Linked DNA regions of Homo sapiens. The protein of the gene in region 4 interacts with the protein of the main gene of each other region in a pairwise test. Each region holds a gene or a part of one and is shown on either strand. Other genes may lie near its edges. The genes, in order: PHF10, EFHC2, PAICS and L3MBTL2.

Region 1 (7,023 bases), on a different chromosome or scaffold from region 4:
CCCCCAGCATCTGTCTCTAACAAACCCAAACAGAATGGGCAGAGACAGAGGCATCTAGACTTCACCAGCATATATTCAAATTCTGACTACAGGGTATTGTTTACCACAGAACCAGAGAAGAATAGCAACACAAATCCTATACGATATCTTACGGTGATATCTATAGACCCCAAAATTGTTAGGAGGCAAGTACAAAAGGCTCTGAAACCCCTTACCAATAGCCGATACCAACTGTAACTAAAACTACTAAATACCTCTTATAATATTCCTGGAACTGTCCGGGGATGAGAGCCACTGGGTAAGAACTGACCTTTGTTCGCTCTGTTGGCAAAACTTTGTACTTCCCTTGAGGTACCTGGATAACCTACGTTAACATAAAGAGAAACACAAAACTGATTCCATGCTAAGAATCAAGGCTTTAGGAAGAGTCCCCACGTGCTCACCACTGCACGCCCACTTCCCCCTCGAAAAGCTAAAATTTTAGGAGATATCAGGAGCTATAACCTAAGAGGACAGTTGGTGCTTTCAGTTCTATATATTATTGTTTTAAAGGCCTATTCTCCTGAGGAATGGCAGTGGATCTCTTGCTCACTACTTAACAGCAGAGTGATCTGGGTAGCTTATACGACCTCTCTGTAGCTCAATTTCTTTATGAAATGGAAGTAATCCTAGTTCCAACCTCACATGGTTACTATGAGAATTAACATGCAAATCTCTTAAAAACTCTTGGGACGCACAGCAAGTATGATATGTAGCTATTATTAGTCTCATTTAGAATTATTAACCGTAAAGCAAAAGACATCTCACAAAAAAATGTAAATTGAGTATTATTAAGCACACCATTAAAAATAACATCTCAACTTCTGAGGAAAAAAAGAACACGCAGGTGTCAGCATGGCCAACATGGTAAAACACCATCTCTACTAAAAATACAAAAAATTAGCTGGGTGTGGTGGCAGGCGCCTGTAATCCCAGCTAATGGGGAGGCTGAGGCAGAAGCATCGCCTGAACCCGGGAGGCGGAGGTTGCAGTGAGCCGAGATCATGCCACTGCACTCCATCCTGGGCTACACAGACTCTGCCACAAAAAACAAAACAAAACAAACAAACAAACAAAAAAAACACACACACATAGGTGGTACAAAAAATAACGATAAAGGGGGTGATGGGCACTCTGCAATAACAAGTAATAAACTAAGTTCAGGGGGTACTAAATTTAAGTTATCCTACATGTGTCTGCAAGTCAAAATAAGCTCTTCTTTCTTCCATGCGTTCCCGGTTTAAGTTGCTATTAAATTCTGCTGCTTTTTTGGCAGCTTTCTTAATATACTCAGGCACTTTACTGGCTTCAACTTTCTGAGTATTCTGTTGTTGCATTTGCTGGAAAAAAAAAATACAGTTGGAAGTCACATATAACTTTCTAAAATGTCATTTTCCCCAACCCAAATAAAAAATGCCAGTCACCTCAATTACTTACGGAATACTCTTTATAATGGTCTGTAATTCGTTGACGTTCTTTTTCTTGTAGAATAACAGAATACTCAGCATGTTTGGCTGGATATTCTTTTATCATTAAATCAATCACTTCATCACTGCGCAATGCTGTTAAGCCTATTTTAGACCAAAAAATAAAAAAATAAAGAAGCTCTTTTAAGGATAAGTGAACAAAAGCACTCTTCAAAATTTAATTCTTCAAACCGCTCCACGTTGTAATGGTTTTCCAATAGCCAAAGCAAAATATCTTAGTACATTTGAAAATAATTAAACTTAATATTCACAATATAAACTCGAGCAATCAAAAGATTATCTTGCAAAAGGCAAATATATCAATTTTTCAACCAAACAAGTTTATTTTTAAGATTCTATGTGCTTTGAACATATATCCCTTTAGTTGGAAACAACTGTTAAATAATGAAATGCACTAACTACTAACAAGTACTACAGAATACTAGATGAATAAAAAAAAATTCAACATATTATAGTTCCCAGTCTTCAAATTCCATACACAAGAAATATTACAATCAATTAAAATTTCACCAAAAACATCAGCACACACACACACACCATGGAGACAATTTTCAAAACTCACAGTATCAGATTTCACCAATTGCTAAAATGCATTCCCAAGAATTTATATAAAAAGTAGCCATGTTGCATTAAAATGTTTGTGAAAAAAAGATTACAAATAAAGCACGGACATAATTATACAGAACTAAAAATTGAAGAAAATTTGCCTTTTTGCATTTTAGAGATGTGGTCTCGCCATCTTGCCCAGGCTGGAGTGCAGTGGCTATTCACAGACATGATCACAGCACACTACAACCCCAAAGTCCTGTGTTCCAGTGATCCTCCTCCCTCAGCCTCCCAAGTAGCTGGGACCACACGCACACACCATGCACTTAGCAAAGAACCTGCAACTTAAAAAAATATATTGTACAAGCTTTGTACAAAAAATACAAACACTCTGAAAACTCTGTAAAAATTATTAGACAAGGGCTGGGCATGGTGGCTCATGCCTGTAATCCCAGCACTTTGGGAGACCAAGGTGGGTGGATCACAAGGTCAGAAGTTGGAGACCAGCCTGGCCAACATGGTAAAACCCCGTCTCTAATAAAAATACAAAAATTAGATGGCTGTGATGACATGCGCCTGTAGTACCAGCTACTCGGTAGGCTGAGGGAGAATTCCTTGAACCCGGGAGATGGAGGTTGCAGTGAGCTAAGATCGCGCCACTGCATGCCAGCCTGGACAACAGAGAGAGACTCTGTGTTAAAAAAAAGAGAAAAATTAGACAATTATACTCTGTTATAGAATAGAGGTTGATCCTTGACTTGCAATGGGGTTACATATGATAAACCCATCCTAAGTTGAAACTATCCTAAAAAGTAAAAGCATTTAATACATCTAGCCTACCAAACATCTTTGCTTACCCTAGCCTAACTTAAACATGCTCAGAAAACTTACATTAGCCTACAGCTGGGCAAAATCAGCTAACACAAATTTTAATATAAAGTGTTGAATATGTCATGTGACTTGTTACATATTATACTGCAAGTGAAAAGAATAATGGTTGTATAGACACTTGAAGTATGGTTTCTACTGAATATGCATTGCTTTCACACCATCATGAAGCTGAACCATCATAAGTCAGGAACCACATGTGTGTTCAAGCTTCATTCTCCTGTGTATTTTAACAATAATCAAAAATGAAGTAAATAATGTAGCATTTAAATAGTTCAATTTATTTTATTAATTTTGTAAAATATTTTAGGAAATAAGATACTTATCTAGTATTATCTCATAAATGTTCAGCTTGAAAAATTCACATTAAAAAGCTATTCTTACCTAGAGTGCACTGAGTTTCAGTAATGACATTTAGCTCTCTCAGGTAGAGTTTCTCCTTGTGAGACAAATCTCGTCGCTCTAAATCTCCAAAAAAAAGATCAAAAGACTATTAAAAACAGCAAAACCTTATGCACTTGTAAAACTTTTAAAAGCTTAAAAACCTTGACTTTTTAAAGTATTCATATTACATATTCCAAATATTATTAAAGGGGCTACAAAAAAATTTATAAATTCAAGAAATAAAACTCAGCAAGATACAAAAGTTAGAATAAAATAGGAAATAGAATAATCCAAAGCAAGAAGGTCATATAAATAACTATACTAAACTAGTTCATGAGGAATAGCCTTTCTCAAATTCAGATACGGCTCATATAGCTAACTCTATTCCTTAGATCAAGAAACAATGGTAAAAATCCCAAACTTGACTATAAAATGATTTTTTCTAAAATTTTCCTCAGGAAATTCACCTTTCCCATTTTGCTTTTAAATCAGTTTATGAGCCATAGAAAATATCAATAATGAAGAGTGATGCTGAATGATAGCAGTAAATGAAACACAGCCAGGCGTGGTGGCTCACACCTGTAATCCTAGCAATTCAGGAGGCTGAGGCAGCAGGATAGCTTGAAGCCATGAGTTTGAGACCACGCTGGGCAACATAGCAAGACTTCACATCTCTAAAAAAATAAAAATTAAAAAAATCTGCCACGCGTCGTGGTGCACACCTGTAGTCCCAGATACTTAGAAGGCTGAGGCAGGGAGACAGCTAGCCCAGGAGTGCAAGGCTGCAGTGAGCTATAATCGCACCAGTGCGCTCTAGCCTGGGTTACAGAATGAGACCCTTAGTCTTAAAAAAAAACAGCAAGCACAAGAATATAAAATATAATCTACAGAAAAATTCAGAAGTTGACAGTGTATCATAAAGAATTACTATCAATTATAAATTAATCTATTATATAAACTAGTACCTGGATATTTCCTTTTAAAGGAGGTCACACCCAAATATTCACTGACTTGTTCTTGAAGCATATAGTATTCTCCTGTTTCATCAGGTGGCCATTTGTACTCTATCAAGTTTTCTGCTGGATAGTAACTAAAACTAAGTACAGAAATACATATTATGCATTAAATGTAGCTTTCATTAATTTTTAATCACTTTTATTGAGGATATTTTGAAAACTATTTTAAGTATTTAAATTATTTGCCTCCTATGACTTGACTTCCTGTGTATCAAAGAAAATTACAAAACAGGTACAAGGAATAGAAATAATTATCTGGTCTACCAAGTCAAAAAGGTATGTGAAAATAACATCTTTTATACACTGGGAAGAACGTAGAATCACAATTGCTAAGAACGAAGGCATTTTTAGTTTAAAGGACCTATGAGGGCAAAGCAAGGTGATGATGGTATCAGCTCTGACTTCTTTCTCTTGGGCTTAAAATGCATAGCCAGTATTTCATCCACCCAAAGAATAATCAACTTCTGTCTCTTGTCTACTGTTCAGTGAGTCATAAATAGCTGAGAAAACAGAACTCTTAAAAACCTATTATCTCAGTGCATCATATCATAAACCGTAACTGTTTGTTCTCAGATACTCCACAAACCCAGAAGCAAAGAATGGACCTAGTTTGAAGGTGCCAGGGTATCACAGTCGATCTCCATCCTGAGTAACAGAGTACAGATTTCAGGATATGGGCCAATTCAACCTCTATATTGGACATGGGAAAGTGACACTATGTTATGCATCCATCTATTTAAAAAGTAACCTTCAAAAAGAACAGTGTTCTCAAAAATGGTGCTGGGAAACTGGGTATCCACATGCAAAAGTATAAAATTGGACCTTTACCTCATATCACAACTCAAAATGGATCAACAACCTAAATATAAGAGCTAACTAGAAAACTCTTAGAAGAAAACATAGAAATCTTTCACAACCTTGGATTTGAAGGTAGATTCTTACATATGACACCAAAAGCACAAGCAACAAAAGAAAAAATAGATGAAAAATTTGGGCTTCATCAAAATTAAAAATTTTGTACAGGGACACTATCAAGACAGTGAAAAGACAACCCACAGAACAGGAGAAAATATGTGTAAATCATATTTTTGATGAAGTATTAATATATAAAATATATTTAAAAAGCTCCTACAACAAAAAAAACCCCAAATAAAAAATGGACAAAGAACTTGAATAGACATGTCTCCAAAGAAGCTATACAAATGGCCAAGCAGATGAAAAGATGTTCAATATCAGTAGGCATTATGAAAATGCAAATCAAAATCACAATAAAATATCACTCCACACCTTTTAGGGTAACTATTATTTTAAAAAATGAAAAATAACAAATTGGTGAGAAATATGAAGAAACTGGAAACTGTGAATTGCTGGTAGGAATGTAAATTGGTGTGCAGCCCCTATGGAAAACAGTTTGGCAGCTTCTCAAAAAATTAAACATAGGATTACCATATAATCCAGCTACTCCACTCCTAGATAAACATCCAAAAAAACTGAAAACACAAACTCTGAACACCAATGCTCACTGCAGCATTATTCACCTTGGCCAGAAGGTGGAAACCCAAATGCCCATCAACATCTGAATGGATAAACAAAATCAGTATATACATAAAATGGAGTATTATTCAGCCTTAAAAACAGAAAAAAAGTCTGACATATGCTACAAAGATGAACCTTGAAGATATTCAAAGTTCTAAGAGAAATAAGCCAGCCACAAAAGGACAAATATTTTATGGTTCCACTTATATGAAGTAACTAAGTAGTCGTATTCACGGAAATAGAAAGTAGAATGATGGTTGCAAGGCGCTAAATAGAGGGAGAAAGGGAGGTTATTGCTTAATGGTTATAAAGTTTGGGGTAGTGAAAGTTTTGGAAATGGATGGTGGTAATGGCTGCACAACACTGTGAATGTAACTGATGCCAATGAATTTCACACTTAAAAATTGTTAAAATGATTAATTTTATGTATGTATGTATTTTACTATCATAAAATTGCTTTTTAATTACACTCAGTAGCAAGACCAACTTTGATGGCACATTATAGAACAGGAAGAAAATATTCTACAATTTTTAATAATTGCCTTTGCCAGAGCTGGGGGAAAGGGAAGAGGATGTTAAGGCAAAGAGGAACATCACAAAAAATATTAATAACCGATAAAATGACAGTACCCAAGATCTTGACTTGAAGTTTCACAACTCCTAGAACTATCTCCTGAGCCCATTCGCCTCCTTTTGGATGGCTGGGTCCCATCATTTGAATTATCTTCATTATCATCCTATACATTTAAAAGATTCAAAAATAATAATTAGAGAAAGAATAAAAGAACAGTAAGTCTCAATAAATGAAAGACTGTCTAAGGACAACTAGTCATACAAGTATTAACTTCATATTATAATTAAAAGGGTCCAAGAGTTTGGCATGAGCAAGACCTGGAATAAAATTTAAAACTGATCTTCAATCCAATCCAAATAAGAACATTTTCAATGAACCCGTAAATGCAAATCTGCTTTGGTTTCTGCTCTTCATAAACATATCAAACTGCTGCATCACTCTAGGATTAAAGCAAACTCTCCTACCCAAGCTCAGGGGGAAAAAAATGTATGGATCATTTACAGTTCTCAATTCAACTTGAAGCCGGTTCATAGGACTATTTTAATTGACTACT
Region 2 (7,023 bases), on a different chromosome or scaffold from region 4:
CATCTTGGCCTGGAGCACAGTCTTTCAGTGAGAGACTCTCAGAGTTTATACTTATGAAATGAGGAATAATGCCTACTGCCAATTAAAATGTACCTTTTAATATGCTCAAAAATTTACAAAATATTCTAAGGCCCTTAGCACTACATCAATACAAAGTATCACTCCTATTATTAATGGATAATCGCTACCACTATATAGAACATTTAAGTCTGATGCTCTGTGCATTAATGAAATGAATTTGCTTGGTAAGTAAGGTGACCTTATACCAGCTCCCACAGCACAAACTGACAGGGGCTGAGGTAACCAGGTACAAAAAGGTTTTGAAGTCCTGATTCCAGTTTGAGTTATGTTAACATAATAAGGAAAAGATCAAGCTGAATTATAAGAAAAATGGGAATGGAGTAGAAGGAAAATCCTGGTACCAAAATATAGGGTTAGGAGAAATACATGGGTAACAATTACTGGGTGAAAGAAAGCATCCAACCCTTTAGCCATATTGTTTTTCATCTCCTGATCTGAATTTACACAGCAGGGTTACACGGCTGCTCAGCAGCTGCCCAGCTCCATTCCAAGGCAGGTAAAACTATTCCTGGGCAAGAGCATGCATTGAACAAAATCAACAAGCTCCATGCCTGCCTCCCACGGGAGACTGTAGACGTCAGAGGGGGCTCTGGCTTAGCGTGCCATAAGGAGGGCTGTGCAGAAAGAGACTCTGGTCAGGGCTCTGTAAAGCCCTGTGGAGTCTGTGGGGAACAATAAGAATGCAGAATATAAATGTAAGCTGCAGGCTGATGGGCCCATTAGGAATTAGGGCAGTCTTTGAAAGGAATCTGCAGAGATGATGCAAAACACTAAGCATGTGACCCAAATCATGGCAGGGCATATTGGAGGGAGAGGGGAATGGGAATGAGACATTTTCTAATCTGATTAGTCTGAAGTTTCCCCTGAGTGTGGAGAAGGGTCACTGCACAATTAGAGGCAAAGTTAGACTGAACATGGTCTGCTTAGCAGCTGAGCGGGATGACCTCCTCAAAGCTAAGCTGGGCTTGGAGACAGATGTGTTCAGAGACTGAGATGACTTCGAAGCAAGTTCTGAAACAATCTTTTTGCATTTAATGTCAAATCGTAAAGGCAAAGACAAAACAGTCTGCTGAGAGAATGAGAGGATGATGACTTGGTGGCCTCAGCACTGGATAAGAAACATGTAGGTCCTCCAGAGGCCAGGCTCCCACATTACTGGACTTTCCAGGACAACTCATCCTTAAGACCATCAAAAGATAATCTAATAAACATCCACAGCTTCCTGACTAGAAGACAGCTTAATGTGTGAAAGGCATTCAGATCCAATTGTTGAAAAACATGGCTTCCTCTACATAGAAAGACACAGGTTTCTTCCAGTTCATTTCTAAGTCTGAGTGTGTGGTCTATGGTCCCTGACTTAAATTTCTCTCCTAGTCCTCAATCAATTCTTTGCACCAGGTACTGTGCTGGGTACTTTATGTATGTTATCTCAATTAATCCTCTGAACCACTAGGAAATAGGTACTGTTACGTCATTCGAGAGATAAGGAATCTGAGGTTCAGGCAGGTCAAAACCCTTGCACAAGATCACACAGCTAATAAGTGGACTCAAAGAATTTAAGAGATGGGAGTGGAGGAGGGGGGTAAAATTGTCAGGATGTGACAACCCATTGGTTATTTATAGGTGGTAAATCACACAGAAGCAGTGTCTGCATCTGAATGAATCGAAGTTCAAGTCACAACTCTTCATTCCAAGGTAAGGGATAAAGAGACACATAAATAGCACTGTGAGAATTCTGAGCAGGAGATAATCACTCTGATTATCAGCCAAACGAATGCAACAGAGCTTCATGGATATGGTGCCACTTGAAATGGGTCTTGAAGGAAGAGCAAGCTTTCAGCAAGTGAAAACCATTGGGAGCTATTGCCTACTGATGAAATAGCAAGGGAAAAGGCCAAAAAAAAAAGGGGGGGGGAGGGGGAAGGCAGGAGGTATATGTGTAATATGCTAAACGGCCCATGTGGCTGGACTACTGGGAACAGGAAGGGGAGTTTTGGGAGTGGGGGATGATATCTGTGAAGAACTCTGAGTCCAAGGCCTGCCTACTTCATCTCAGTTCCTTCACGGCAGGATCCCTCACACGGCTGCTAGCAAATAAAAGCAAATAGAGTTAAACAAAAACAAAATCAAAACAAAACAAATAGAACTGATAATCTAGAAAATTATTCCAGGTTGATTCAATGCACATACACATCCAACTAGATTTGCCCTCTTCTGGGTTTCCCTCCTGATACCTTGGACCCTAGTTCCCTGACATAGAATTTGGCTTTATCTGTTCCTTTGGTTTCTCCTTTTGTCTCAAACAAGGACTCCCTACTTCAGACCCTATTTGAGAACAATGCTCCAGCTGCGAACCCTAAGCCCCACTATGGAGAAGGAGCTTAATTCAAAGTTAAAGAGCTGGTCCTTCCTTAGAGAGCAAAGAGACACCACAGAAGGTTTGTGAGTAAAAGTGCAATAAGATGACATACATTTTTGCTCTTAGAAGGTACTTAGCTGCTATATGTAAAGATGGATTTAAACATTTAGACACTGGTGGATGAAAGACCAATGTGGTGGCACCGCAGTATTTAAGAAGCAATGTGGGTCAGAACAAGAATGATGATAGTGGAAATGGAGAGGAGAGAGTAGAAGCAAGCAGTAAGGAGGAGGTAGAACTGTCAAGACATCCTAATCTACTGGCTATTTGTAGACAGTAACTCAAAATGATTAGAAGCAGAGGATGTGCATTTGAAAAGTTCAGGATTCAAATCAGAGCTCTTCTTCTTCTACACTATGTGACTTTGGGCAAAATACCTCATCTCTCTAAACCTCAGCATCCTTACGTATGAGATAAGAAGGATAACAGTTTCGACCTCACCAAGCTGTTCTCAAAAAGTAAATGAGATAATATATCCAAAACAATGATCACAATGCCTAGAACACAGCTGAAAATGTCAGAATTATCAAGATATATAAGTCAGAGGAGGAGCTAGAGTGAGTGATGCTATAGGAAGCATAAGAGATGGCCAGAGTCTAGGTGGCTGAGAGGGACATGCCAGGAAATCAAAAGTCAGGTTCAACAGGAGAACTGATGTGTTTTAGAAAGCAGTTCACCATGCTCTCATTTTATAGCATCATAATCTCTATGTTTTACATCTGGTGCTCTATCAGGACAGAGCCCCATGCTAATAACCCTAGGTTCTCTTACTGCATGTCTATAGCTATCAGGAACTGCTGCTTTGAAAAACCTGCCCTGAATTTTACATCTAATGTCCTCCTAACCAACAAAGTTGTGTATTTCATTTTGTCCCAGGAATCTGTGGATCTATAAGTGTGTATTCATGTTAAAAAGATAAAATAATAATTTGTAATAGGCTCTCTAACATTCAAAATCAAGACAAACTTTTCCTTCTGTAACACTTAAATGGAGGCAGGTCACCAATAATATAATCAAAACAGTTAAGGGTAAATCAAGGGTAATTAAAGGGAGATGTAAAACCAGGAATGGTCCCCCAAATAAAACTATGCAGGACAATCCCTATCAAGAGTGGAACTCTAACTTACCTTGACAATAAGGATTCTAGAAGATCATCACTCAAAGGTAATCTGGAGGATTTGCACAGCCTTTTAATGTCTTTGGTGGGTAATACATTTTTTCTGCATTAAAACAACGTAAATGAGCTTTTATATACCTTGTATACCTTTAGTAATAATTACATACTATAGGAAAGAAAATACATTTGTGATGTTTCCTGAGAATGTACACATGGAAGTATGAAAATTGGTATTGGAATTCACAATAAGGAAGAACAGTCACATTTCATTTCATCAACTTTTTCTATTTCAGAGGCCACCAGACTCCATCCTTACAAAGGCTTTTCCTTCAAGATGCAGATTCTTGGTTGGTGACAGTACAGCCTATTAAGGCTACAGCCACAAGTGTTGCTCTAAGTAATTGATCTGCATTCTTGACCACTAGTCAAAAATGGTTCTGATATTTGAAAACATCTCTTAATTTGACAGGCATCTAGAGCCTCCAACACAAGTATGATATGACTTGAGGGTGTTTTTCTGTTCTTTTCCTTGGACCCAAACCTTATCACCTGGAAGCCCCAGCTGGGGCCTCAATATTCACTTCAATTTTTTCAGATGCTAGCAGTTTTCTCTAGAGCAGCCCAAAAGTCATTTTCTCCAGTCTTATGGGGGCAAAGACATTCTTGTCCAATGTTCTCATTCAGCCAACACTTTTCCAGGCATCGGGCAAAATTAGAACCAACAGGAAAGAAAGTTGGCTCTTTTCTTTGCAATGAGAATGTTTATATCTAGAATCAAAGCTTGATGGATCTGGAAGAACCTCAGGCTATCTGGTCAAGCAGCCCCATTGTTCCTAAGAAGTGTTCCTTGAATGAAGGAGGGCCACACTTCTCACTCTGGGGAAGGGGGCAACACCAGGGTGGAAGGCAGGGCCAGGGCCATGCAAAACTCAGGCCACACATCTTCTAGGAAGCTTGGGAAAGCTTAAAGAGTCAAGGAAAAATACCATCTTTATAAAAACTCAAAGAGGATGCATTATGGATTAATAAAAAAAATGATTATTTCTAAGACAAACTATGGGACCTACACAGATATTCAGGGAATGCAGTTGGCCACTTGGGTTCAGACTTCAAGTTTGGGGATAAGGCAAGAAGTCACAAGGAAGAGAGATGGCAGTGGTGTGCAGCAATACGGATTAGAAGCTAGAGCAAGAACTAAGATTTTTCTAATTCCAGATGAAATCAGTAAATTTATATTTCTCCCCACTGTATAAGGTCTGTAAGATGAATGCAAAAAAAACACATTAAGTTGTTTGCATCCAGTTGTATGTAACAATGACTTAATGAAGCTCAACACGCACACAATCAATGTATAAGAAATAGCTTATACTGAACTTCATTATTTTCAAGAAGAAATAATTTCAAAGAAATTCTACAGAATGTTTGCTTGAAAATTCCATTTTCTATTTATTATAAAAGTTACATTTATAAATCCCCATCAGTACTAAAATAATGTAAAAAGACGACATCTCAGAATTAACCCTCCTAACATTTTGATTTACTATGCTTCAGTTGAAAGCTTCTAGAAACAAATGAAAAGAACATGCAAGGGAGAAGCCTATTCTTTCAAAGATACAGGGCCTCCCCTATTCCGTCAACAAGACTAGCCTGGCCAACATGGTGAAACCCTGTCTCTACTAAAAATACAAAAAAAAAAAAAATTAGCTGGGTGCGGTGGTGCGAGCCTGTAGTCCCAACTACTCAGGAGGCTGAGGCAGGAGACTCTCTTGAACCTGGGAGGTGGAGGTTGCAGTGAGCCGAGGTTGCGCCACTGCACTCTAGCCTGGGCGACAGGGCCAGATGCCATATCACACACACACACACACACACACACACACACACACACACAAGCTCTCCATCACTGGGAAATATCTGTACCTAAATACTTCTCCGAAAATGATTTAAGGTGTTTGTGCTAAATAGTAGAGTATGAGTATGATGACACATGTCTATTTTCTTTTTGCACTTTTTGATAAAATAGAAATTCCTTCATTACTCAGGTTCACAGAAATGTAAATGATTAGAATCAATAAAACAAAAGCTTACTTTTCTCGATCTTCATACACACAGGAATAAATGAAAGTGTCGAAATTCTCAAACATATTTTTCTTGAACTTTTCGTGGGCCAGTGCGATTAAGAAATCCATATCTGAACATGTGCCCTCAGGCACACGGTAGTGACGTGCAATGGTTACAAATTCTTGCTCTGCAAGGTTTCCAACAGTCAAAGACATCAATATGTCTCTGTAATAAAAATGGAAAAACATTTATAAACTGATATCTAAGAATACAGTATTTTACATCTCCTTCTATTTAAAAGATCCAAATTCCATTTTACAAAACTTTTACCAACTGTACAGAGGTCATGTGATTTTTTTAACTTAATTTCTCTTCTTAATTTGGGAGCAGCAGGAAGGCACCAATGCCAGAATGGAAAATCATAGGCACTGTAGCTTATAAATAAAATGGCATTTTGCCCAGAGTTAAACACCTACCAAATAACAGCCTGCAACCAGGAAGTAAATTTTTAAAGGCTTTGAATGGTCAAAAAACCTATTACTAAGTACATGACTTTATTCAATGCCTATTAATCTTCCTTACACAAAATAGTAACAGGCTTGGGTTTCTGGTTTCCTGGGACATAAAATTTGTAAGTTAATAAATTAGAAAGGTGTTTTGGGATGGGGAAAGCAATCATGCACATTTCTGTAATAAAAAGTAAAACTGGACACACCCTGGCAGTGAGAAAAAAAAACAAGAGAAAAAAAAATGAAAAGTTAAAAGACCTATGTAAGCGTACAGCTGTCTGCATCTTTAGAAGGCAAATGGTACTGAGATTATTAGGCAGAGCTAAAAAAAAAAAACTAAACAACAACATATCAATGAAGACGACTCAAGGCCTAGCAAATTGGCTGAATTGTTTTCAATGTAACTCTGTATGAAAGCCATAAACTAAGCAGCATACACCAGACAGAATTATATCAAAATGATTAAAATGCAAAATGTTATGGTGGTTACAGGAATAAGCTTCCACTGTCTAGAAAATTTATTTACTGGAAATAATTCAGTTCCCAAGAATCCTGAATAAACAAGGGAATAGAAAATTTTATTTGGCCTTCTGCTAGAAAGAGGTCTTTCAGAATAAATGCTTTCAGTTCTTTTAGGTATTTCTGGACATTATCATCTAATAATTCTAGATTCTCCTAGTCAAGAATTTCCATAGAGTCTAGGAAAGCCCACAGCATTGATGTTGACCTATCTAAAGGAAATTCATTTAATCTACATCTACTTCTCAAGTTTCCTGGGTTGTTTTGTTTTGTTTAAATTTGGTTTTGCTTTTGTATTTTTAATGGGAAATGAATGCAAA
Region 3 (7,914 bases), on a different chromosome or scaffold from region 4:
GACTGAGTGCATCTCTCATTCTCACAAGTGCCTTTCCAGTGGTAATGTTCTGTACTCTGTTTGCAGAACCAGTGTCTAAATCTCTTAAGAAAAGTGCTCCTGAGATCATTACAAATCAGTTTCCTCAAAGCGTAATAACAGAACCAAAAGATTCTACAGAATGTTTCTGCAGACAGAAAACCCAACTTCATCAGGTAAATCTTATAAATTTTTAGAAGTATGAAAATGTTTGTCATTGTAAGGTTCAATTCCTAACCAGGAGAAGTGATAATTCATTGAATGGAAGGGCATGGTTATCTCCTAATCAAGGAAAGGCTAATTAGCTGATTCATGGCATAAATCTACAGACATTTACTAATTCCTTTTATGGAATCTTCAAATATGTCCAGGCCATTCTAGTCTCCATAAAATGTGACTGTGTTTTAAAGATGAAAATGTTTATTCTAAGAAGGGGTGTCTGGTTTGTTCAGAACTCCGCAAACTACTGAAATGATGTTTTCAGGACCAAAACAGCATTTGGTGATTATATAAATCAGGCATGAACATACCCACACACATGCATGCACAGTTTACAGCTAAGAGGACATGTGAAAATTCCCCTACAGAAAGCAGAGCTACGGAATAAATCTGAAGACAGCCAGAACTACTAAAAACGGGGAGTACATCTGGATGAACCCATCTGGGTTAAATATCCAGTGCATGACTGGCTTAACTAATTGATACTCTATTTATTTTTATATGAAATGGCTAATATACCTTCCAGGTATTCTGTTAACCCCAGGACTAAATGTTTCAGATTAGATTATACCCAAGACAAAAAACTGGACCAAATACAAAACAAAAGTGATAGAAATCTCACCTTCTAGATTCCATCTTCTTAAAGATAAGGTTGGCCAGGCATGGTGGCTCACGCCTGTAATCTCAGCACTTTGGGAGACCGAAGAGGGTGGATCACTTGAGGCCAGGAGTTCAAGACCAGCCTGGTCAACATGGTGAAACCCCGTCTCTGCTAAAAATACAAAAATTACCTGAGTGTGGTGGCGGGCGCCTGTAATCCCAGCTACTCGGGAGACAGGTACGAGAATCACTTGAACTTGGGAAACGGAGGTTGCAATGAGCCCAGATCATACCACTCCACTCCAGCCTAGGTGACAGAGTGAGACCCTGTCTCAAAAAAAAAAAAAAAAAAGGGAGGCCAAGGCGGGCAGATCACGAGGTCAGGAGATCGAGACCATCCTGGCTAACACAGTGAAACCCCGTTTCTACTAAAAATACAAAAAATTAGCCGGGCGTGGTGGGGGGCGCCTGTAGTCCCAGCTACTCGGGAGGCTGAGGCAGGAGAATGGCGTGAACCCGGGAGGCGGAGCTTGCAGTGAGGGGAGACTGCGCCACTGAACTCCACCCCAGCCTGGGAGACAGCGAGACTCTGTCTCAAAAAAAAAAAAAAAATCAAGAAGATAATATATAAGAAATAAATTCCTTCATCAAAAAGGAAAAAAACACAATCAAACCTTTTTGCAGTTGTTTTAAAACTAACCAGTGAGTGAATGAGGGTGAGAAAGTGAAAACAGAGCTTTCTGCAACAGACCACCACTTCTCAGAGTACGATATATATATACATATATACATACACACACGTATTTTATATATATATATATAAAACTAAACTAAAAGAAAAAGTTCTTAGTTTTATTCTGGCCCTTATCTATCAGTTTCGAGCAGCAGATAATTGTATTTCCAAGACATAAGGGAGTGTCATTGTTCTTCCAAGCAGAATCAGTCCTCCCAAAGGATGAGCACTTTAGCTCATGTAAAATTTTGAATTGATTATGGGTGAGAACCAGCCCTCTTTGTGCACCTTAATGATTCTATGCCTACACAAGAGAAATGTTAAATTGTTTTTCAGTAATACATTTGTTCCTCAAAACCACATAATCACATCATTATTGCCCTTATCTGGTATTATTTAATCTTACAATTCTTTCACAGAAAAGCAACTATAGAAAACAGATATATGTAACCAGGAATCAAATGGTATTCATTAAAAAAAAAAAAAAAGAAAAAAAAAACCTATAACCATGAATACCAAGTATTTTCCTAAACTGGGTACTAAAACTCCAACCAGTGCTAACATGTAAGTTAAAAAAAAAAAAAAGCCTCTTTTTCTTCAGGCACACATTTAAAGGGAAGGAGAAAGGGGGATGAAAATTTCTTGAATAACTTTGGCAAAAAAAGTAAATATAGTGAAGTACAGTTCATACATATTTTCTACAGACCACCAGGCAACCCTAAAGACCTCTAGATTCTCCCTCACCCCCATGACAGAGTATCCAAAATAACAACTGTTTTTTTTTTTTTGAGACGGAGTCTCGCTCTGTCGCCCAGGCTGGAGTGCAGTGGCGTGATCTCTGCTCTCTGGAACCTAAGCCTCCCGGGTTCAAGCGATTCTCCTGCCTCAGCCTCCGGAGTAGCTAGGACTACAGGAGCGCATCACCACACCCAGCTAATTGTATTTTTAGCAGAGATGGGGTTTCACCATGTTGGCCAGGATGGTCTCGATCTCTTAACCTCGTGATCCGCCCGCCTCGGCCTCCCAAAGTGCTGGGATTACAGGCGTGAGCCACCGCGCCTGGCCATAGTTTCTAAGAATGTTACAAACTAATGTTGCTCACAACTACCACATAATCAAGAGTTTACTTTCTCCTTGGATTACGTAACTAATTTTCTCAATAAACTTTTTTTAAAAAAAACAAGAAATCTATTATGGTCAACCCACAATTATCCAAGATTGGAGCTACGCAAGTTAAAAATATTCTTTTTGATGCTTCCCACATTCTCAGCTCTTTAGTAAACAAGGAACACACAAAATGTGAAACTGAAATTGAAGTACCTGGGACAATGAAAACAGCAAAAAATACTTCTAATTTAAGTTTGGTGGAGGAAAAGCTAATCTTTTGGAATGCGTTTATACGTGTTGCACCCATTTTGCTGTTACGTGTTATTGCCAAGTTCCTTAACTGTAGTGTAAGTTGTTACCACTGTATTGCCTTATGGAAACTGTAATACTTTCAGTAAGAATATCAAACCCAGGTTTGTTTTTCTTATCCTAGTGTAATAATTTATATCAACTTCCAGTTAAGTCAGGTAGTAAGAAAAGGAAAGATCACCGAAGCAAAGTAATTTTTTTTAACTCGAAAGGATCTCCCAATTTTTCAAAATCAAGTGTATGGATCTTGGCATAGAGACACTACTCCCCTGTCCCCCTTTTGAAGAAGGGAGTTAATTTTTGTCATGTTATTACCAACGTTTTCATTCATTAGGCAAGACGTCTACCAATGAATCTTTTCCAGATGCACTGTTCCCTATGGTTGGCTTATTTCCATTTAATTTATGTGAGATCTACTACCAGTAGTCATTCTCAACATCAACTAGTCATCTTTCCCTGGGTCTGAAGTCTAGCATCCTCAAGTTCCCATAGCGATAACTACTTTCAAACCCATAATCTGCTCAATAGCTCTGCCCTTGCAAACAAAAGCTTGTGGTGGTTGGAGGCCCCGCGCGAAAACCTTTAGGTGTTGAAGGACCTGGACTGGCCGCCACGCCACACTAGCCTATTACAGGAGCAGCCACAGGCTCCGGGAGACTAGAACCCGCCTGCAGTCGGGGAGGAGCCCTGACCCAGCTAGACCAAGCAAACCGGCGGTTTACAAGCTGGCCAGCCTCTGGATGGGTGCACACACCGGGGGGCGGGGAGGGAGAGAGCCCCTAAAAGGCATAAGTGGCTGGGAGGGTGGGCAGGACAGGCTAAAGTTCATGGAAGCGAGGTGCCCCTCGTGCACGCCTAGGCAACCCGGTCGACGCCACAGGCAGGTACTGGCTTAGGTCGGAGAGGTCGGTCCTCCCGGGCCCTCGGGCGCTCATGAGAACGCCGACTGCGGGAAGCGGCTCCGAGAGATGGAGACGCACGCCCCCGCCACCCCCACCCTGTTGCTCACCGGTGCTGCAGCCCCACGAGTCCCAGAGTGATCACATGCGGTACATCCAGCTGCGTGGGCCACTCTCCTGAGGCGATGCACCCGAACACGCCACATTCCTCTCGGATCCCCAACTCCTCCAGCTCCATGTCGCCGCCGAAAGCACGTGGAAGGACCTGCCGCTGCGGCCAAGGTGTAAGCACCAACCAGCTGCCAGCTCGGCCCGTCGAGCTCAGAAGCTCGCGCTCGCGACAGGCTCTTCCTTCCCGAGGGTGGCCCCAGCTACTGCGGCGGCGCGCGCTGTCCCTAGGTGGCGTGGCCAGCTCAGCCCTGCTCCTCCCCCTCCGAGTCCACCAACGAGCGAGGGCGGAGGGGCGGTCCCGCGGCTGAGGGGCGGGGTCACGGATGCTGTAGGGTGGAGCTAGCCTTCCCCTAAGAGCTGCCTGGAAAGCTGTATTTGCTGCACGTGGAAATCTCCGTTATTTTCCAGCACCCAACAGTAGCGTAATGGGAGTAACGGACTTAACCTCATTTCTCTTTCAGAGCATTTAGCCTTCATATGCCCTTCCCTGCATGCTTCCCCCAGGCCGTCAAGACTTGGTACGCTCCAACTTCTGAGTCGCTCCCGCAGCCGAGAAGGGGCCGGGGTATGCGAGCTTCCGCAGAGTGGGGAGGGGCCGCCAGTGCGCGCCACTTTTCGCCTGTCCGGGCACTGCGCCAGCGCGGGGCGGCCCGGAGGCGGGGTCGCGTCTCTGCGCCTGCGCGGCGGGAAGCCAGTGGGGCGTTGTTTCGTCCGATATCCGCGTTTCAGTCTCCGCCCATACCCCTCCGGGTTAGGCGGCTGTAGCGGAGCTCGAAAAGAGTGGCGCAGGGTCGCGCGGCCCCGCCTCCTTCCCCGCCCAGCGAAGCTCTCTGACCACCCCTCTTTTCTAGAGTTCTGCCTCGCTTCCCGGCGCGGTCGCAGCCCTCAGCCCACTTAGGATAATGGCGACAGCTGAGGGTGAGTAACAGGGATCCGGGCCCTTCACGGTCTCCCTGACCCCCAGGCCGTGAGCTCGCGGCCACGTGCGAGCCGCGAAACTCTGTCCCGCCTCCCTGCAGCAGCGCCTCTAGGCAGCCGCGCGGGCGCACACGTGGCCCAGGCGCTCCCGGGCCTCCCCGAACTTTACTGCCTCGGGGATGGGGAGAAGGAGCAAAGTAGAGGAGAACGAGAAATGGCCAAGGGGTGGAAAGGTGCCTGGAAGTATTATTTATAATCAATAGCTATTGCAAAATACAAGCAAATCAGTCTTGATTCGTCAAAACCTGAGTCTTGCTTTGCCCGTTAGGTTAATGACCTTTCTAAGAAGGTTAATAATTGAAACTTTTGAAAGACCTGTCTAGAGGCCGGGCCTGGTGGCTCACGCCTGTAATCCCAGCACTTTGGGAGGCCAAGGCGGGCGGATCACCTGAGGTCAGTAGTACGAGACCAGCCTGGCCAACATGGCGAAACCCCGTCTCTTACTAAAAATACAAAAAATTAGCTGGACGTGGTGGCGCGCGCCTGTAATCCCCAGCTACTCAGGAGGCTGAGGTAGGAGAATCGCTTGAACCCGGAGGCGGAGGTTGCAGTGAGCCGAGATCGCGCCATTGCACTCCAGCCTGGGCGACAAAGCGAGACTCCGTCTCAAAAAAGAAAAAGAAAAACCTGTCTAGGGGGCGTGTGTGTAAGTAGTCTTTGATGCCATGGTGTGTGTGTGTGTGTGCACGCGCGCGTGAAGTAGTCTTTGATGCCACGATAGCTTGGGGTGTGTGTACGTGCGTGTGCGTGTTTAAGTAGTCTTTGATGTCATGGGTGTGTATGTGTGTGCGCGCGCGTGTTGAAGTAGTCTGATTCCATGATGGCTGGGGAGGGGGGCTGTTTTTAGGTAGTCTTTGATGCCATGATGGTGTGTGTGTGTGTGTGTGTGTGTGTGTGTGTGTGTGTGTGTTCGTTCCAGTAGTCTTTGATGCCACGATGGCTTTGAAGAACTCCAAAACCTTTAGGCAAAAAAGTTGCACTATCAGGAAAGATTGTTCTTGCTATTTATGCTGGAAAAAAACAAATGCTGGTTTTTTCCACACACCCAGTTGCTATATGTATAGTGAGGCAAATTGCTTTTGTGGCTGCTGGGTACATTCTTTTCCACATAGAAAGTAACTGAATTCAGATTTTAAAAAGCTGTAGACTCAGGCCGGGCGCTGTGGCTCACGCCTGTAATCCCCAGCACTTTGGGAGTCCCAGGCGGGCGGATCACGAGGTCAGGAGATCGAGATCATCCTGACCAACATGGTGAAACCCCGGCTCTACTAAAAATGCAAAAATTTGCTGGACGTGGTGGCGTATGCCTGTAATCCTAGCTACTCGGGAACCTGAGGCAGGAGAATCACTTGAACCGGGGAGTCAGAGGCTGCAGTGAGCCGGGATCGCGCCACTGCACTCCAGCCTGGCGACAGAGAGAGACTCTGTCTCAAAAAAAAAAAAAAAAAAAAAAAAAAGCTGTAGACTCAGCAAAAAAGATTCAGATGATATTGAGTATCAACTCCCTAGAATCAAGGCAAGGACCAGAATTTTTCTTGCAATCATGGTACCTGTACCTCTAAAATGGCAAATCTCTAAAATCTTTGCTCTTCCACTTCTTTCCATTTGTGTACCGTTGGCAGGTTGATTTTTCTTAAATGTCACTTTTATGGTCTCTAAAAGGCAAAAGTGGCAACAAAGGCAAAAATGGCATCTCTAGAGATGTTAAATCCAGTCTGTCCAGTCTGAAATCCCTTTTCATTCAAATCCTGAATACTGCTATCCCTTCTACCTCTTCAGCCCTAACTTTGATTTTTCTCTCCTGTGAATCCTTAGCTATGTTCCAGTCAGGTTAATTCACCAAAGTTTGTTTTTCATTATATACATTTTATTTATATTATTTTTCCCAGAACATTGCTGGCTAATGGAAATATAATGTAAATTTGTCTTCTATAAGCCACATTTTAAAAAGTAAAATAATAAAAAAAACTGGTGCAATGTGTTTATATATATATATATATATATATATATATATAAAAGGTTTTTTTTGTTGTTGTTTTTTGTTTGTTTTGCTTTGTTTTTGAAATGGAGTCTCGCTCTGTGTGGCCCAGGCTGGAGTGCAGTGGCAAGATCTCAGCTCACTGCACCCTCCACTTTCCAGGTTCAAGTGATTCTCCTGCCTCAGCCCCCCAAGTAGCTGGGATTACAGGCACACTCCACCACACCCGGCTAATTTTTTTTTGTATTTTTTAGTAGAGTCAGGGTTTTGCCATGTTGGCCAAGCTGGTCTCAAACTCCTGACCTCAAGTGATCTGCCTGTCTCAGCCTCCCAAAGTGCTGGGATTACAGGCGTGAGCCCATTTTAATATATTTTATTTAACCCTATATACACAAAATACATTTCAACATGGAGTCAAGATGAAAAATTCTTTAGATATTTTACAATTTTTTATATCGAATGCAGTATATATTTTAACAAATGACATTTCAACTTGTAATAGCCACATTTCTAGTGGCTGCCTTATTGGACAGCAGAGTCCTAGAATTTTCTTATCCTTTGTGTAAATTCTGTGCTTTCCCAGACTCTTAAATTTCAATTCCATGAATCATTTTCAGTCCTCATCAATCTTTCCAGAATTCATCTACAAATTTGTAGCAACCATTTTGGTACTTGCAGGGTATGTCACGTATGGTTGTTTCTTATGTTGTTTCTACCCATTAATTCAAATTCCTTCCCTCTTTAATGACTAAGTAATACAGATTCAACTAAATTAAGGGGAGGGGCATTAGATACAAACTTTGCCCGGGCTTACTGCATATTAATATATATAAATGTTAATTTCTTTATCTGATCTGGGCACTGTTTTTTTTGTTTTTGTTTTTTCTTGAGACGGAGTCTCC
Region 4 (7,183 bases):
TCGGGAGGCTGAGGCAGGAGAATCGCTTGAACCCAGGAAGCAGACGTTGCAGTGAGCTGAGATCACGCCATTGCACTCTAGCTTGGGCAACAAGAGCGAAACTCCGTCTCCAGAAAAAAAAAAAACAAAAGCAAAAAATGCATACATCAACAGTACAAGGAAGTAAAAACCTGAGCATCCAGTTTCAGCGTATGAGATAAGCAGAGCAGGAACACCAGTGACAGGAACCGTTGGCGTAAGTTGAAATGGCCGTTTATTAGGAATTCAGTTGAAACATCTTATTAAGCACAGGTTGCTAAGCAATAGTGGCCGCCCCAGAACAGTAACAGTGTGGCAGTTCCTTCTGCTATGGAGCTCCTGGGCAGGGGTTTCATCCTGCAGCAAAGGTACCCTTTTTGGCTGGACTAATTCATCCCTCTACATGTGGACCTAATACGCTCCTCTCTTTTAAGGCCCTCCCTCTGTGCATCACTGTCCCTCTGTCTGGGATCATTGATCTGTCTCTCTCTACTAGATCACTCCCAATAGCAACACAAACGTGCTCTTCTGTTCCAAACTATGTACATAAATCCCTTAAACTCACCTCTTCTGCTCTATGCCCTGCCATTGTGCTATTCCACCCAGACAACTTTTTTGTTGTTGTTGGTTTTTGTTTGTTTGTTTGTTTTTTGAGAGAAAATCTTGCTCTGTCGCCCAGGCTGGAGTACAGTGGCATAATCTCGGCTCACTGCATCCTCCACCGCCCTGATTCAAGCAATTCTCCGGTCTCAGCCTCCCGAGTAGCTGAGACTACAGGCGCATGTCACCACACCCGGCTAATTTTTGTAGTTTTAGCACAGATGGGGTTTCACCATATTGGTCAGGCTGGTCTCGAACTCCTGACCTCAGGTGATCCACCTGCCTCAGCCTTCCAAAGTCCTTGGATTACAGGCATGAGCCACTGTGCCCGGCCAATATTTTTCTATTTTTAGTAGAGATGGGGTTTCACCATGTTAGCTAGGCTGGTCTCAAACTCCTGACCTCAAGTGATCCACCCACCTCAGCCTCCCAAGTAGCTGGGACTATACGCTTGTGCCACCACACCAGGCTAATATTTTGTAATTTTTTTTAATTGACACAGGGTTTTCACCATGTTGGCCAGGGTGGTCTAGAATTCCTTTTTTGTTTTTTTTCCAAGCTGGAGTGCAATGGCGCGATCTCAGCTCACTGCAACTTCCGCCTCCTAGGTTCAAGCGATTCTCCTGCCTCAGCCTCCGGAGTTGCTGGGATTACAGGCATGCCTCACCAAGCCCGGCTAATTTTTGTATTTTTAGTAAAGATGGGGTTTCACCATGTCGGCCAGGCTGGTCTTGAACTCCTGACCTCAGGTGATCCGCCCACCTTGGCCTCCCAAAGTCCTGGGATTACAGGCGTGAGCCACCGCGTCTGGCAGAACTCCTGATATCAAGTTATCCACCTGCCTCAGCGTCCCAAAGTGCTGGGATTACAGGTGTGAGCCACCATGCCCAGCCAGACAACTTTTTTTTTTCTCTGTCACCAGGGTAGAGTGCAGTGGCATGAACATGGTTCACTGTAGCCTCAACCTCCTGGGCTCAAGCAATCCTCCCTCCTCAGCCTCCAGAGTATCTGGGACCACAGGTACATGCCACTACACTTAGCTAATTTTAAAAAATTTTTAGCTGGGCACAGTGGCTCAGGCCTGTGATCCCAGCACTTTGGGAGGCCAAGGCAGGCGGATCACGAGGTCAGGCGATCAAGACCATTTGCCCAGGTGGGCGAATCACCTGAGGTCGGGAGTTCGAGACCAGCCTGACCAACATGGAGAAACCCCATCTCTACTAAAAATACAAAAAAAAAAAAAAAAAATTAGCCAGGTGTGGTGGTGCATGCCTGTAATCCTAGCTACTTGGGAGGCTGAGGCAGGAGAATTGCCTGAACCTGGGAGGCAGAGGTTGTGATGAGCCGAGATCGCGCCATTGCACTCAAGCCTGGGCAACAAGAGTGAAACTCTGTCTCAAAAACAAACAAACAAAAAAACTCTAATGCCGTTCCCTTGCACAGAATAAAATCCAAGCACTCCACAAGACCCTGAATGACCTGGTCTCAGCTTTCTCTCAAACCTCATCTTGTATCACCCTCTCCATGTTTTGCTATATCCATCTACTCTCTCTGTCTTTCTGTTTATTGCATACCAAGCTTGAGTTGGCCCCAGGACCTTTGCACTTGCTGTTCCACCAATGTGGCCTTTGCACTTGCTGAACCAACCTGTCTTTTTCTTTTTTTTTCACCACTATCTTATTCCAGAACATTTATTTTTATTTTTATTTTTTGAGATGGAGTCTTGCTCTGTTGCCCAGGCTGGAGTGTAGTGGTGCAATCTCGGCTCACTGCAACCTCTGACTCCCTTGTTCAAGCGATTCTCCTGCCTTAGCCTCCCAAGTAGCTGGGATTACAGGCACCCGTCATCACACCCAGCTAATAGTTGTATTTTTAGTAGAGATAGGGTTTCATCATCTTGGCCAGGCTGGTCTCGATCTCCTGACCTTGTGATCTGTCCATCTTGGCCTCCCAAAGTGCTGGGATTACAGGCGTGATCCACTGCACCCGGCCAGGTCAATGAGTTTTAAAGATCACCTGTGTGTATTAAAGGTGAAGATTTAAAAAGGGTGACCACAGGAGGTGGAGGTTGCAGTGAGTGGAGATCCCACTGCATTCCAGCCTGGGCGACAGGGGAGACTCCATCTCAATCAATCAATCAATCAATAAAAGAAAGAAAGAAAGGGTGACCAGTTGAAGGGCTGCTGCAATGGGCCGGTGGCTTGTATTAGAGTGGTAGTGGTGGAGGAAATACAGGATATATTTTGGAGGTAGAAAAACCAACACGTTGACAGCATGGATACAGGGGTTTAGGGTGGAAGGGGTTGAAGGAAAGAAAGACCTCTAGGAAGAGTTTGACATCTCCACGGCGGACTTCAAATTTAGGCATATATTTTATATGTATTCAGCCTCCACATATTGCATTTAGAGTCTCAATTAATTCACTGGGACACGGCATGGCATAGGGAAGGAATCTGTACTAAATTTGGAATCCCAATCCTGTGTGATCTTGGAAAGTGCCTAAACCTGAAGTGGTGAAGAGCCACCACTTCCTCTTCTTTCAAACGGTGATAGGATGTCTAAGGGTTTGAAAAGATGTTTGCAAAGCTCCACAACAGCACCTAGAACTCAGGGTGTCTAAGGAGGTTGTGGGAAACCCTAACGGGATGAGGCAGAGAGCCTCAGATTCGAGGTTTTTACCCAGGAGAGAGTGGTGAAGGAGGAATGTTGTAAGATTTTGAGCAGGCTGGACATTTACAGTATTGAGAAAAAGAATATTCCAGTTTCAGCCGGGCGCGGTGGTTCACGCCTGTAATCCCAGCACTTTGGGAGGCCGAGGCGGGTGGATCCCGAGGTCAGGAGTTCAAGACCAGCCTGGTGAAACCCCGTCTCTACTAAAAAATACAAAAATTAGCCGGGCTTGGTGGTGGGCGCCTGTAGTCCCAGTTACTTGGGAGGCTGAGGCAGGAGAATCGCTTGAACCTGGCAGGCGTAGGTTGCAGTGAACCGAGATCGCGCCACGGCACTCCAGCCTGGGCGACAGGGCAAGACTTCGTCTCAAGAAAACACACACACACACACACACACACACACACACACACACACACACACACACAGAGTATTCCAGTTTCTTCCTTTTTTTTTTCTTTTTAATCTGGAGTAGTCCAGTTTCTGCCTGAGTTGGAAATGAGTCCCTCTGCTATGCATCCCAGCAAAAGGGCACCTTAAATATCTAACCCGGGAGAGTACGAGGTTATTCCTGGAGTCTGGAACAGTGACTATCATAGGTGCTCAATAACCGTTTAGGGAAGAATAACATCCAGTGAAGTCAAGAGGTTGGCGTAATTGGAACACTCGGCGTGAGGCGCACCAGGTTTCCAGCGCCCCTGGTTTCCACGTCGCTATGGTAACGACTCACCCTGCACACATGCGAACTACAATTCCCATAACCGCCCGCGGCTTCCCCGCCCACAGGGAGAGAATGGCGGGAGCAGGCACGGAACCGGCTTTTCCTCCTTCCTGCAGCGTGATTGGCCCGCGGCTCAGGGAGGCGACCAATGAGTGCTCTCGCGGAGAGCGACGGGGCAGGCCAATATGGCTTCCTGCACCTGGTGACGCTTGGCGAAACTGAGGTCTCATGGAGAAGCCCCGGAGTATTGAGGTGAGAAGGCGAGGACTTAGCGTGACTGGGAAAGGGAACTCCGAGAGCCTCGCTCCGTGGGCCCTTCTTTAGGGCTTTTAGCGACGCCTGGAGGGTGGAGGGTGGGAGGATGGATAAACTGAGGTAGTTAAACTGAGCCAGGGGCAGAGGCAATTGACGTTACTTTTTGCCCCTCTCCTGCTGGGGCCAACGTTCGGCGAGGAGTTCAGGGAGGAACAGCCGTCCCTGGCCTGGGGGAAAGGGAACTAGGTTTAGGATCTGAGAGCTCCTGAATCTTCCTTATCCTGCTTGTCTCGTGGCTGTGTTGTTTAGGGCTTGTGAGGCCTGTTACATGAGGTGGGAAGTGAAGGGAGATTAAAGTTGGGTGAACATCACTCCTTGTCTGTAACGTTCACGTGCATTATCTTCCAGTACACTCACAGCAATCATGTATTATTCTTTCGTCTTTGTCGTTCAAGCCACTGAGGCTTAGAGGTGGTGCGACACCCCAGGAAGTTACCCCGGCTGGAAAGTGAAGGAGATTGGCACTAAGTCTGTCCGCCTCTGAAACTTTGCCTGTTATGCTTTTCACACTGTACTGCAACCTGGAACCCACTCATCCTTTTTTTTTTTTCTTTCAGACGGAGTCTTGCTCTGTCACCTAGGCTGGAGTGCAGTGGCGCGATCTCGGCTCACTGCAACCTCCGTCTCCCGGGTTCAAGCAATTCTGTCTCCATCTCCCATGTTCCTGGGATTACAGGCATGTGTCACCACACCCGGCTAATTTTTGTATTTTTAGTAGAGACGAGGTTTTGCCATGTTGGTCGGATTGGTCTCGAACTCCTGACCTCAGGTGATCTGTCTGCTTCACCTCGGCCTCCCAAAGTGCTGGGATTACAGGCATGAGCCACTGCACCCCGCCTCATCCTTTAATCATTTGGTTTCTGGGCACCTTATATTTAAGAGACGGGGTGTTCCTATGTTGCCCTGGCTGGAATGCAGTGGTTACTCACAGGCGTGATGACAACGCACTGCAGCCTCTAACTCTTGGGCTCAAGCAATCCTTACACCTCAGCCTCCTAAGTAGCTGGGACTATAGGTGGTCTCTGTCACCCTGCCTGACAAGGGTACCTATATTTGAATTGTTTCCTTGCTGGGTGCGGTGGCTCACGCCTGTAATCCCAGCACTTTGGGAGGCCGAGGCGGGCAGATCACGAGGTCAGGAGATCGAGACCATCCTGGCTAACATGGTGAAACCCCATCTCTACTAAAAATACAAAAAAATTAGCCGGGCGTGGTGGCAGGCACCTGTAGTCCCAGCTACTCGGGAGGCTGAGGCGGGAGAATGGCGTGAACGTGGGAGGCGGAGCTTGCAGTGAGCCGAGATCGGGCCACTGCACCACTGCACTCCAGCCTGGACGACAGAGCGAGACTGTGTCTCAAAAAAAAAAAAAAATTGCTTCCTTTCTAGCATATTTGCATGTGTAGTTGCAAATATAAGGTGGAATAGCTCAAACTTTCTGCAAGGGTAAACGAGAATAATCATGTGGAGAATAAGAATAGCAAGTCACACTTTTAGAGCTGTTACTGACTGCTGGAAATAGAACTAGGTTTTACATATCTTATCTCAATCTTCGTAAGAATTCTCTAAAGAAAGCTTATTACCTCTCTTGTAATGATGACAGCAGCAAGATAAAATACGCACAAAATCACACAGTTAATAAATGTTAGAGCCAGGATTCAAACTCAGGCAAATCAGAGCCTATGCTTTCAACCAGTAAAAATTGGCAACCTTTATTGAGCACTTACTATATGCAAGTCACTATTCTGAGAGCTTTGCCTGTATCGTCTCTTACTTCTCCCCCAAATCCTTTTTTTTTTTTTTTTTTTTTTTTTGAAACAGGGTTGCTCTCTGTCACCCAGGCTGGAGTGCAGTGGTGCAGTCATAGCTAACTGCAGCCTTGACCTCCCTGGCTCAAGAGTTCCTCCCACCTCAGCCTCCCTAACCAAAACACCCAGCTAATTTTTTCCATTTTTTATAGAGACAGGGTTTCCCTATGTTGCCCAGTCTGGTCTTGAACTCCTAGGCTCAAGCAATCCTCCTGTCTCGGCCTCCCAAAGTGCTGGGATTACAGGCATGAGCCACCATGGCCAGCCCCCAAACCCTATGAAATAGGTGGTACTATCCTCATTGTACAGATGTGGAAACTGAAGCACTGCAAAATTGACTTGCTGCAGGTCATACAGCGAGTAAGCACTAGAGATATTTGAGCTCTGGACCAGAGGCCAAACTTTTCTCCTTTCTTCACACCTTTTTTTTCCTTTGAGACAGTGTCTTCCCTCTGTCATCCAGGCTGGAGTGCAATGGTGTGATCATGATTCAGTGCAGCCTTGACCTCCCAGGCTCAAGCTGTCTTCCCACCTCAGCCTTCTGAGTAGCTAGAGCCACAGGTGCATGCCACCACCACCCAGCTTTTTTTTTTTGAGAAGGAGTCTCACTCTGTTGCCCAGGCTGGAGGGCAGTGGTGCAATCTCGGCTCACTGCAACCTCCAACTCCTGGGTTCAAGTGATTCTCCTGCCTCAGCCTCCCGAGTAGCTGGGATTTCAGGCACCCACCATCATGCCCAGCTATTTTTTGTATTTTTACTAGAGATGGGATTTCACCATGTTGGCCAGGATGGTCTTGAACTCCTGGTCTTAAGTGATCCGCCCGCCTCGGTCACCCAAAGTGCTGGGATTATAGGTGTGAGCCACCGCACCCAGCTTTTTTTTCTTTTTCTTTGGAGACAGGATGTCATTCTCTTGCCCAGGCTGGATTGCAGTGGCATGGTTATGGCTCACTACAGCCTTGACCTCCCAGGCTCAAGCAGTCCTTCCACCTCAGCTCCAAGAAGCTGGGACTACAGGCGCATGCCACCACACCTGGCTAATTTTTTTTTCTTTTG

The links.
Region 1: the proteins of L3MBTL2 (region 4) and PHF10 interact in binary tests that used the Homo sapiens proteins (3 or more experiments, as listed by UniProt).
Region 2: the proteins of L3MBTL2 (region 4) and EFHC2 interact in binary tests that used the Homo sapiens proteins (3 or more experiments, as listed by UniProt).
Region 3: the proteins of L3MBTL2 (region 4) and PAICS interact in binary tests that used the Homo sapiens proteins (3 or more experiments, as listed by UniProt).

Annotation. Positions count from the first base shown.
Region 1 is NC_000006.12:169,714,479-169,721,501, forward strand, and holds part of PHF10 (PHD finger protein 10), read right to left. Parts: intron 6,634-7,023; coding exon 6,527-6,633; intron 4,441-6,526; coding exon 4,310-4,440; intron 3,429-4,309; coding exon 3,345-3,428; intron 1,611-3,344; coding exon 1,477-1,610; intron 1,380-1,476; coding exon 1,230-1,379; intron 365-1,229; coding exon 255-364; intron 1-254. UniProt on the Homo sapiens protein: Involved in transcription activity regulation by chromatin remodeling. Belongs to the neural progenitors-specific chromatin remodeling complex (npBAF complex) and is required for the proliferation of neural progenitors.
Region 2 is NC_000023.11:44,172,665-44,179,687, forward strand, and holds part of EFHC2 (EF-hand domain-containing family member C2), read right to left. Parts: intron 5,901-7,023; coding exon 5,703-5,900; intron 5,545-5,702; coding exon of another isoform or gene 5,543-5,544; intron 3,721-5,542; coding exon 3,628-3,720; intron 1-3,627. UniProt on the Homo sapiens protein: Microtubule inner protein (MIP) part of the dynein-decorated doublet microtubules (DMTs) in cilia axoneme, which is required for motile cilia beating.
Region 3 is NC_000004.12:56,431,355-56,439,268, forward strand, and holds the start of PAICS (bifunctional phosphoribosylaminoimidazole carboxylase/phosphoribosylaminoimidazole succinocarboxamide synthetase), read left to right. Parts: upstream 1-4,905; 5' UTR 4,906-4,907; coding exon of another isoform or gene 4,908-4,958; coding exon 4,959-4,974; intron 4,975-7,914. Other genes in the region: PPAT (amidophosphoribosyltransferase), read right to left, coding at 3,996-4,123. UniProt on the Homo sapiens protein: Bifunctional phosphoribosylaminoimidazole carboxylase and phosphoribosylaminoimidazole succinocarboxamide synthetase catalyzing two reactions of the de novo purine biosynthetic pathway.
Region 4 is NC_000022.11:41,201,129-41,208,311, forward strand, and holds the start of L3MBTL2 (lethal(3)malignant brain tumor-like protein 2), read left to right. Parts: upstream 1-4,183; 5' UTR 4,184-4,234; coding exon 4,235-4,258; intron 4,259-7,183. UniProt on the Homo sapiens protein: Putative Polycomb group (PcG) protein. PcG proteins maintain the transcriptionally repressive state of genes, probably via a modification of chromatin, rendering it heritably changed in its expressibility.